Regions from separate parts of the Homo sapiens genome. Here region 2 is linked to region 1. The links come from fine-mapping of genetic effects on gene expression. A gene starts in region 1. The other region holds a variant in brackets. All regions are shown on one strand. Distances are from middle to middle. Region 1 holds the start of TBC1D23 (TBC1 domain family member 23). Region 2 has its middle 27 kb from the start of TBC1D23.

Evidence for each region. PIP is the estimated chance that this variant, and not a neighbour inherited with it, causes the effect.
Region 2: its variant is the best candidate, but not a certain one, in a credible set for the expression of TBC1D23 in whole blood (INTERVAL, PIP 0.67).

The regions. Positions count from the first base shown.
Region 1 is chr3:100,258,207-100,263,592 of GRCh38, forward strand. TBC1D23 (TBC1 domain family member 23) reads left to right here and starts at 2,786. Exons shown (of 19, transcript NM_001199198.3): 1 at 2,786-2,865. The coding sequence starts at 2,813. RefSeq lists enhancers at 2,190-2,858, 2,594-3,083, 2,859-3,527, 4,865-5,386.
Region 2 is chr3:100,231,515-100,236,900 of GRCh38, forward strand. No RefSeq gene overlaps it. Among named protein-coding and RNA genes, the nearest start is that of TBC1D23, 27 kb to the right of the region's middle. The variant T/C (reference allele first, on the strand shown) is at 3,061.

The DNA of each region.
Region 1 (5,386 bases):
AATAATATTACAATGAAAACTGAATTAAATTCTACTCACATAACAACTATGACTATGCAGATGAGTTCATAATCCTTACCTGTCCCTGAACCCAACCAGCCATTTCTATATAGGTGAATAGCTTAATCCATTACAAAAGTACTACAAAAAATTCCCTAGTTCATTTTACAAATATTTATGGAGATTCTACTATGTGTCATAGGCATGGTACAAATTAAGTACATGTAATACAGTATAAATTACATAATTATATGGCTCAGAACACCAAATAATAAATGAAAAATCTTTTTATGTTCTCTATAATTTAATTTAAAACTAAGACATTTTAATTTTCTTGTTATAAGAAATACGCTTTGATTTTATCCAAGGATAATATGAAATAATACACCTTCCCATTTGGATGTGGGAACTACAATTAGATGCACAAATGCAAGCAGGGGACGCACTCCAAGATTTCATAATGAAATCTTCTCTAGTTCTTGAAAAGCATTTTTGTTTTGTTTTAAGCAGAGGTCCATTATTAGAATTTAACAAATTCTACTTGAGGGAGTGAGGCCCTGTCTCAGAAAAATAAAAATAAAATAATAATAAAGAAAAATGGTTTGGCCAACATGGCAAAACCCCGTCTCTACTAAAAATACAAAAATCAGCCGGCCGTGGTGGCACACGCCTGTGGTCCTGGCTACTTGGGAGGCTGAGACGGGAGAATCACTTGAACTTAGGAAGCAGAGGTTGCAGTGAACTGAGATCATGCCACTGTACTCCAGCCTGGGTGAGAGTGAGATTCTGTCTCAAAAAAAAAAAAAAAAAAAAAAAATCCGCTAGAAGACACTATCGCTAAACAATTTTGGTTGAAATCTTGTCCCCAATGGGTTATACATCACTAAGATATTGACCCTATCTAGAACTGGCTCCCTAATTTGTGAGGCCTAGTGCAAAATTAAAACCAGTGGCTCCTTGTTCCCAAATTATTAAGAATTTCAAGATGGCAACACCAGAGCATGAAATCAAGCACAGAGTTCTTCTAAGCATGTGGTCTCATGCTATTGCATAGACTACATGCCCATGAAGCTGGCTCTGGCTCCATTAAAGAACATAGAAGTCAGAACTTTCCACTTTATTTTGACAGAATAAAGAACTGTTTAAAAATGTCAAGTGACATATTTTTAATGGGAAAATATTTTACCAGAGACTATAAAGCAGTTGCTGATTTAATTATACTCAAAATGAATCATAATTGAGGACTAGAATCTTCTTAACCAGTGAGCAACTGCTTCTCATGTCAATGACTGAATAGGTTTTAAAACCATTTTCTGAAAAGTTTCTGAAAATCTACTGGCAACAATTGAAGGGACCCAGGGGAGGTCCTGAATATTAGAATGGTAATGTGACCTAGATTCACGTCTTTTATTCTTTTTGATAGAGGGCATCTACAGTCTCATTCTATGTTAAAAGAAATGTTCCCTAACAGAGAACTGAACATTACAGAGATCCGGGCCTTGGAAGTGGGTGCAGTACCATGCAGATCTGTATTATTTCCCTTTAGGGAAGAGAGTGAACATGTTTTTGGTTGTAAATGAGATAGCTGTACTGTTTTGTATCTATTTAAAACAAATAGTTTTTGAAACTATGAAACATTTTAGATACCTAAGTATAGACTCTATAAAGAACACTGGCCACCTATGTGGCCACCTTGGGGCCCTTAATAAATATTTAAAAATTCATGGAAACTCCTCCCTTTCCCTGAATGTAACTGCCATTCCGAGTTTTCTATATATCATTCTCCTGCATTTTAAACTCATATGGATCTATTTTAAATATATTGTCTTTTAAACACCAACTATAAATGATACCATACTTTACCTATCCGTCTGCAATCTGTTTTGCTCATTTAACAGCGTATTTTTCAGATGTATCCATATTGTTACATGCAGTTCTACTTCATCACTGTTGTTTTCAGGGCTTGCAAAAGCGTTTCTTTAGGTCCATCCTCCTGAGCGTGTGCTCACCCCAAGGCCCCGGCGGTGGCCAAGTGTCCGCCCATGCGGTGTAAAGGGGAAGTGGAACGCGTAGAGAAGGATTTTGGCAGCTCTGCTTGCCTGGAATTCCAGTCCTAGAATTCTAAATTCGGACTTGATCTTCCAGACTGTTAGGAAGATATATTTAAGGTAGGAGGCTAGAACGTATCTCCTTTAGTATATAGCTTCATTTACAACTTTTAAATATTCAGTCAAAAAGTATGTGGGCCTTCATTTACACTTTTGACGGGGCCTCACAAATAGGGGTGGTCTGCCCCTTTCCTTACGTCCCACTCTTTCTTCAAATTAAATTGCTACAGCAGGAAATTACTGAACTGTGGCTCTTCTCCTACGTCCGCCTTCCCTATGTCAATTCCCATTTCCCTTGCTTTCTCCAATAGTTAGGACTGTAAATTCTAACTTTGTTAATTTCGACGCCAAGCTGGAATGAAGACGCTAAGTGGACGCTAAAAAGACACGCTGTTTGTCACACAAGGCCTCCAACTGGGACGGCGTCCACCGCGCCCCGCCCCGCCCGCGGCACCGTGGCATCTTGGGACATGTAGTCTTTGGAGGGGCAGCTGCCTCCACCAAGTCTCCTCCCCCAAGACGCTGCCTTTCGGCCTCGGGACGCCGTGACGTTGCGTTCCTCCAGTCCCTTGCCACCTCCCTCTTTCTTCCCCTCTGGGGAAGCTCAGTGCTGGACTTCCGAAGACCTTTTACGACATTGAGTCTCGGAGTTGGTCTCAGCGCCGGATCCACTTTTCGGCAAAGTGACGTGGACGTCAACAGCAATGGCGGAAGGAGAAGATGTGCCGCCGCTGCCAACGTCGAGCGGCGACGGCTGGTGAGTGAAAGCCGGGGCTAATTTCCAATGCCCCTTTATTCTTCCTTCTCACCATCTTGCCGGTCCCCGAGGAGCCGTCTGGCGTCGGCATGGAACGGAGAGGCCGGTCCTAGGCGAAGTCCGGTGCCCTGCCCTACCCCTCTGCCAGCTGGGTGCCCCCTGCCTGCCTGGTTCTGCCCAAGGGACTGGGGCGGGACTCCCAAGGAGAGGGGTGTCATCCAGGTGCTGGGCCTCAGAACGGTCCTCCTGTGTCGTCTGTCAGTCTCCAAAGTGTGCTGGAGTGGGTGGCTTCAGGGCTGGGTTTGGCCGGAGTCCTGGCTGTGGGAGTTGGAGTAGGCTGAAGAAGGAAGTTTGTTGGATGCAGATCTGAGTCACTAAAATACAATGTGAAGAAAAGACGTTTTGAAATGACCACTGCGACCTTCGCCTGAGGGTTCAGAGGTTGACCCGAGGAGAATCCCTCCCACTTAGTTGGTATACTTTTTTTTATTCTGGCTGTTATCTCGTTTTGCATTCCAACAGTTTTCATCGTTCGTCTCCTTCACGCAAGTCATCTTTTCCCCTACTACCACATTTCTCACAGCTCGATTTCTGAGCTTTGGATGCAGTGTGGGACTTTGCTCTTACTGCACCCAAGCTGTTGCATGCTTACCTGATTTATACTCGGGATTGTGGGGGAAGACCGCCAATAATTTTTTGGTAAACTGCTCACCCAGTGTTAATCTTTGGGAAAGGCTTCTACTTTTGAAATAGTTGATCTCACGATACACTGTTAGGTTGTACAACATCATTTTTTAAAAAGGGACCTTTAGAGGCTTGTCTAAATTTTACAGTTGATCTAAGTGTATTGACCACATGTATTAGTTTTGGATTTGCTTGTTCGTTATATTGTATGTGTACAGCTCATGGGCACTTTAAAAATAATACAGGACATTGATAGACATCGACTTTAATCCCAGAGGAAAAAAATGGAAATCGTTGAAAGGGATAGATAATTAGTAATTAAGAAATTCAGCTCTCCATTAGCAGACATCAAACATTACCGTAGCGCTGGGCTCTCCAAGGTGTCAGAGGAAAACTTCATGGTGATCTAGATATAGTTTTTTTTTCTTCAACTTGCTTATGTTGGAGTTGGGAAGGTGTAACAAGGTAAAATTAATCTTATTCTTTGTGAGTGTGATTCAAAGTGTTACGAGAGGTTGGCGGTGGGGGCTGGGGCAGTTGGAGTCACTGGGGGAAAGCTTCATGAAAGCAGCAGTGTTTCAACTAGGCTTTGAAGAATAAGTAGGATTTAAGCCCCAGGGCTGTCTAATAGAAGCCACATATTGTAATTTAAAATTATGTAGTAGCAGCATTTAAAACTGAAAAGAAGGCTGGGCGCGGTGGCTCACGCCTGTAATCCCAGCACTTTGGGAGGCCGAGGCGGGCGGATCACTTGAAGTCAGGAGTTCCAGACCAGCCTGACCAACATGGTGAAACCCCGTCTCTACTAAGAATATAAAAATTAGCCGGGCGTGGTGGCGCGTGCCTGTAATCTCAGCTGCTTGGGAGGCTGAGGCAGGAGAATCGCTTGAACCCGGGAGGCAGAGGTTGCAGTGAGCCGAGATCGAGCCACTACTGTCCAGCCCGGCGGCAGTGTGAGGCTCGGTCTCAAAAAAAAAAAAAAAAAAAAAACACTAAAAAGAAACAGGTGAAATCAGTTTTAATAATCTATTTAACATATTTCAACATGTAATCATTGTTTAAAAAATTAGATAATTGTACATCTTTTTTGTGCCAAGTCTTCAAAATCCAATGTGCATTTTACAGCTACCTTATATTTCAATTTGGTCTAGCCACATTTCAGATATTAAATATCCACACATGGCTTGGAGCTAACATATTAGTGCAGAATCAGATTAAGAGATGGGAAAGGCCTCTGAATGGAGTAACTTTCATGCGCGTCCGTGTGAAGAGACCACCAAACAGACTTTGTGTGAGCAATAAAGCTTTTAATCACCTGGGTGCAGGCGGGCTGAGTCCGAAAAGAGAGTCAGCGAAGGGAGATAAGGGCGGGGCCGTTTTATAGGATTTGGGTAGATAAAGGAAAATTACAGTCGAAGGGGAGTTGTTCTCTGGCGGGCAGAGTGGGTGTCCCAAGGTGCTCAGTGGGGGAGCTTTTTGAGCCAGGATGAGCCAGGAAAAGGACTTTCACAAGGTAATGTCATCAGTTAAGGCAAGGACCGGCCATTTACACTTCTTTTCTGGTAGAATGTCATCAGTTAAGGCGGGGCAGGGCATATTCACTTCTTTTGTGATTCTTCAGTTACTTCAGGCCATCTGGGCGTATACGTGCAAGTCACAGGGGATGCGATGGCTTGGCTTGGGCTCAGAGGCCTGACAGTAACAGCATAAGCAAGGGCATAGACAAGACAACTAATTTGTTTTGAGAGTAAGAATGAGAACTACCTGGTTGGAGAGAAGTTGCAGAAAAATACGTCTTTTTGCTTCTGGTATCCTGCAAGAATGGCAAGAGAAAAAA
Region 2 (5,386 bases), 27 kb before region 1:
GATCACGCCACTGCACTCGAGACTAGGCAACACAGTGGGACTCTGTCTCAAAAAAAAAAAATATGACAGCAACCCCAACCTTCAGCAACCACCACCCTGATCAGTCTTCAGCCACCGACATGGAGGCAAGACCCTCCACCAGCAAAAAGAGTATGACTTGCTGAAGGTTGAGATGATTGTTAGCATTTTTTTGCAATCAAGTATTTTTTAGTTAAGGTATATACATTTTTTAGACATTGTGCTATTGCATACTTAATAGATTACAGTATAGCACAAAAATAACTTTTATATGCAATGGGAAACCAAAAAAGGTGTGTGACTCATTTTATTGTAATATTTGCTTTATTACAGTGGTCTGGAACCAAATTTGTACTATTTCCAAGGTGTGCTTGTACTGAAATATATATGGGTGAAGTGATGATGTTTAGAATTTGCTTTACAAAATTCCAGCAGGCCGGGCACCGTGGCTCATGCCTGTTATACCACCACTTTGGGAGGCTGAGGAGGGTGGATTACTTGAGGTCAGGAGTTTGAGACCAGCCTGACCAACACAGTGAAACCCTGTCTCTGCTAAAAGTACAAAAATTAGCCAGACGTGGTGGCAGGCACCTGTAATCCCAGCTGATTGAGAGGCTGAGGCAGGAGAATCACTTAAACCCAGGAAGCAGAGGTTGCAGTGAGCCGAGATTGCGCCACTGCACTTCAGCCTGGGCAACAGAGCAAGACTCCGTCTCAAAAAAATAAATAAATAAAAATTCCAGCAAAAACAAAGAAATAAAGAAATGCTGATAGGGTAATTGATTAAATAAAATTGGTAAAATGTTGGGACTTTTTGAAGGTGGACTATTGTTACCCGGAGGTTCATTATACTGTTTTCCCCCCATTTTTGTATGTGTTTTAAATTTTCTATTAAAAAAAGTAGGAGGGAAAAGTTGGAGGAGAAGAGGGTGCCGGCAATGCTAGAGTCACTCAGTATTTCCCTTTGAAAAGAACAGTTTCACAAAAAGTAACTCAAAATGGATCGTAGACCTAAATGTAAAATGGAAAACTATAAAACTCACATAAGATAACAGAGGAAAAAATCTAAGTGATCTTGGGTTTAGTGGTGATAAGTTTTTAGACACAACATCAGATCATGATCCATGAAAAAAAATTGATAGTTGGACTTCATTACAATTTAAAACTGCTGTCCAGGCATAGTGGCTCATGCGGCTGAAGCGGGAGGATTATTTTAGCTCAGGAGTTTGAGACCAGCCTGGGCAACATGGTGAAATGCCATCTCAAAAAAAAAAAAAAAAAAAAAAAAAGGATGCTCAACATCATATGTCATTAGGGAATTTTAAATTAAAATAACAATGAGATGTGACTACATAACTCTTAGAATGGCTAAACAAAAACACTATGCGACCAGATGCTGGAGAGCATGCAGAGCAACAGGAACTCTCATTCATTGTTGGTCAGAATGCAAAATGTTACAACCCCTTTGGAAGACAGTTTGGCAGTTTCCTACAAAGCTAATCTTACCATACTACCCAGCAATTGTGCTCCTTGGTTGCCTAAATGAGTTGAAAACTTATGTCCACACAAAAACCTACACATGAATGTGTATAGCTGCTTTAGTTATAATTGCCAACACTTGGAAACACCAAGATGTCCTTCAATAGGTGAACTGATAAACTGTGGCACATTCATACAAAGGAATATTATTCATTCCATTTTTTCCAATTCAGTAATAAAAAGAAACACCCTATCAAGCCATGAAAAGACACAAAATAAGCTTAAATGCATATTGCTAAATGAAAGAAGCCAATCTGAATAGGCTGCATCCTGTATAACTCCAACTATGTGACATTCTGGAAAAGACAAAACTATGGAGACAGTAAAAAGATTAGTGATTGCCAGGGCTTTGGGGGAGGGAAGAAAGATGAATAGGTACAGCATAGGGGACTCTTTAAGCAGTCTAGGAACCCCCTGGATTTTCCATTCAATTTTTCTATAAATCTAAAACTTCTCTAAAAAATAAAGTATATTAATTTAAAAAGAAAAAAAAGCTGCTGGTAATGCCTGTCTGCATGAAGAAAGGGGCCAGGGACAGATTTGCCTCCTTTCAAAGCTGTACATTACGTGTATGGCTATTAAATGGGAATACATTAAAGGGTTTACAGCACAATGAAGTTTCTCAAAATTAGGTCCTAGAACTACGTCTATCAGAAGCAACTGAGTTGCTTGTTAAATGCAGATTCCCAGGCCCTGGGCCAGAGCTACCAAATCAAAGTCTCTAAGAACAAGGCCTGGAAATCTGCCTTTAGAATACCCCAGTGATTCCTATGCACCCATTAGTATACACTCTACCAATCTGCTCAACTGTTAGTCTTTTATTTTTGCACATATGGAGGAATAAAGAGAAAATGTCCATTAAATTCTTCTCAAATATATGTAATAAGACTATGAATAGAAGGGCTGAAGACGGAAAGGGTAGGATGGACACACCACAGGCTGTTGAACAACTGGCTTGGAGAAGCTTCTGAGCCTGAGTGGAGAAGGACAAGAACTAGAGGTGAGCTATTCACTCTCCACACCATGTGACAGCTAGGTTCATTTGAAACAGCAATTAAGCAATACAGAGGACCAAACAACATTGACTAAGTTGGAAAATAAAGACATATGAAAGAAAGTCTTTCAGAAAACAAGTGCAAGGTGTTAGAAGTCATCTAGATTGAAGACAGAGAAAAAGTGACAAGAAATATTTCAACTGATTCTTAGGAAGGCTGCTCTGCAGAAGCAAAACAAAATAAACAAAACCAAAAAAGTAAGGAATGCCAAAAAAAAAAAAAAAAAAAAAGAGAGGGAAGATAAAAAGGAAACAAGGGGAAAAAACTGAAGGAGACACCCTGAAAAGGCAAAAGTTGAGCCTGATGGAAATAAAGTATCAGAAATGACCAAGGCCAGGTGTGGTGGCTCACCCTTATAATCCCAGCACTTTGGGAGCCTGAGGTGGGAGGATTGCTTGAGCCCAGGAGTCCAAAGCCGCGGTGAGCTATGGTCAATCACACCACTGCA[T/C]TGCAGTCTGGGTGACACAGTGACACCCTGTCTCAAACAAACAAACAGAAAAGAAGTGAACCCAAGTAGAAGATAGCTCATGAGCTTTGAGTATAGGAATCATCAGTGATTTTCAGAAAGAACTGTGAAAACAGGCCAAAAATTTTTTTTTCTAAAAACTAAAACAAACACCCAAAGCAAAGAAACAAGAATATAAAAGACAAGCATTTTCCATCATAGATACTACATTCATATCTTTTGCAGATTATGGTTTTCTTTCCAGTTAAATAACTATAATTGTAACCTGAGACTGAAGTAACAAAATAAAATGAAACTGCAGAGGGAGGGAGAATGAAATATTTTTCTCCTCATTGTGCTATATCCACTTGTATAACGAAGTCCTTTTATGTTTATACAATGCTTTATTATTGCTATTTTAGTACTTATAGCCAGATATGTACTATCTCTTTCACTAGCCTGTGAACTATTTAAAGGCAGACTGGCTCTTATTTACCTCTGAGTTCTCTTTCTTGGGCACATAAAAGGTATTTTGTGAATATGTTTTGTTAATTAATTAATTAATTAAAACAGGACCTCAGAGTCACACTCTCTGATGGAAGTGGGGTTCTATAAATGAGGGCAACAGAGCAAAATCCCATCAACTTAAAGCAAGTTGAAGGGGAGACTGAGGCAGTAAGGAAGATTAGGGTCAGCAGCTGCAGAGAGTGAGGAGGAAGATGACAACTGGTCATTAGAGTTCCCAGCATTTCATCATTTTTGTCTGATAGCAGAACAGATCCAGAACTGTGCTTGGTCCGCTAATAACCATAGCCATTTTTAGTATAGAGTTTTCCCTTCCTCTCTTCTATCCAACATTTATCTTATTTGCACCCCTCCCCACCAAAACAAACAAACAAACAAACAAACAAACAAACCATCTAGGGTAGAACTACTTAAAAGATTCCATAAAGTCAGGTGTAGAGAAGTTAGGCAGTAGACATAAAAAGAAATCAGATGAATTATGTTCTAAGTGTTTAGGTAACTACATGCATAGGAAATGAGATTTGCATTTCAAATGAGTATACGTGCTGCTTGCTAAATTTTCCTGGCCTGTGTTATAGCTTCTCCAGGTTCTATGAATTAGAATTTTGTTTCTGTTGTCTACAGAACTAAAGGGCATAATTAATATTTCTGCAAAACACTTAAGTAACATTAGAAAATTTTAATTTGACCTGTTTATTAGGCTTACTTTTACTTAGACTAACAAAGGCATAGTTTAATTAAGGCCACCCCAGAGGGTAACAGCAATCTGAAGGAAAGCTGTAAGTAGTGAAGTGAGATTCACAGTGTTACCTTCTAGTCATCTTAAGTTACTTTGAAAAAGACAAATACATTAGTAAAATAAAATTGGAAAATACTGTGCATTTGAAGATTTATGGTTTACCAAATTATTTTATGTATATTAAATCTCAACAGAGAAAATACCAAGTGTTGGCAAAGTACATAGCAACCAGATATCTCATACATTACTTGTGGGTGTATTAACTGGACCAACTATTTTGAATAATTGTTTGGTGATATCTACTAAAGCCAAATATATGTACAAGCCATGATTATGCAATCCCACTTATAGGTATATATCCAATAAAAAGGCATATATTTATTTTCCGATTCATAAAGCCAGAAGAGGAAACTATTCAAATGCCTATCAACAGAGAAGCTGAAAAATCAATTATTGTATTGTCATAAAATTGAATACTGTACAGCAAGGAAAAGGAACAATCTATAACTGCACAGAACAATACGGATTAATCTCACAAACATAATGTTGAGCAAAAGAAGTCAGGCATAAAAGAGTACATACTGTGTGCGTCCATTATATAAAGTTCAAACACCAGCAAAATCTATAGTATCAGAGACTAGGATAGAGAATATGCTTTTGGCAGGGGATTAGTGATTTGAAGGGGTATGAGGGAGATGTCTGGGGTACGGTAACATTCTCTTTCTTGTCCTGTGCGTTCATTACATGGGCATGTTCAATTTTTGAAAATTCATCAAGCTGGTCACTTCTGATGTATATACTTTTCTCTAAAGTATAGGCCAAAGATATCTTGTTTTAGTCTCAGTTGCTATACAAACCCTAGGAGGTTGTCAAGAAAGCTATTATGATATCTCCATTTTATACAAGAAAACAATTAGGTAAAGACAAATGACTTTTTCAGAGTACTTATTTTTCACATTGTTGCCCAGCTCTAAAACAGATCTTTATCCACTTGAGATCAAGAAATGTTGTGCTTTGTATTAATTGTACATTTCTTCCCCTTTGCAGCAAGCAGTGCTTTAGAAT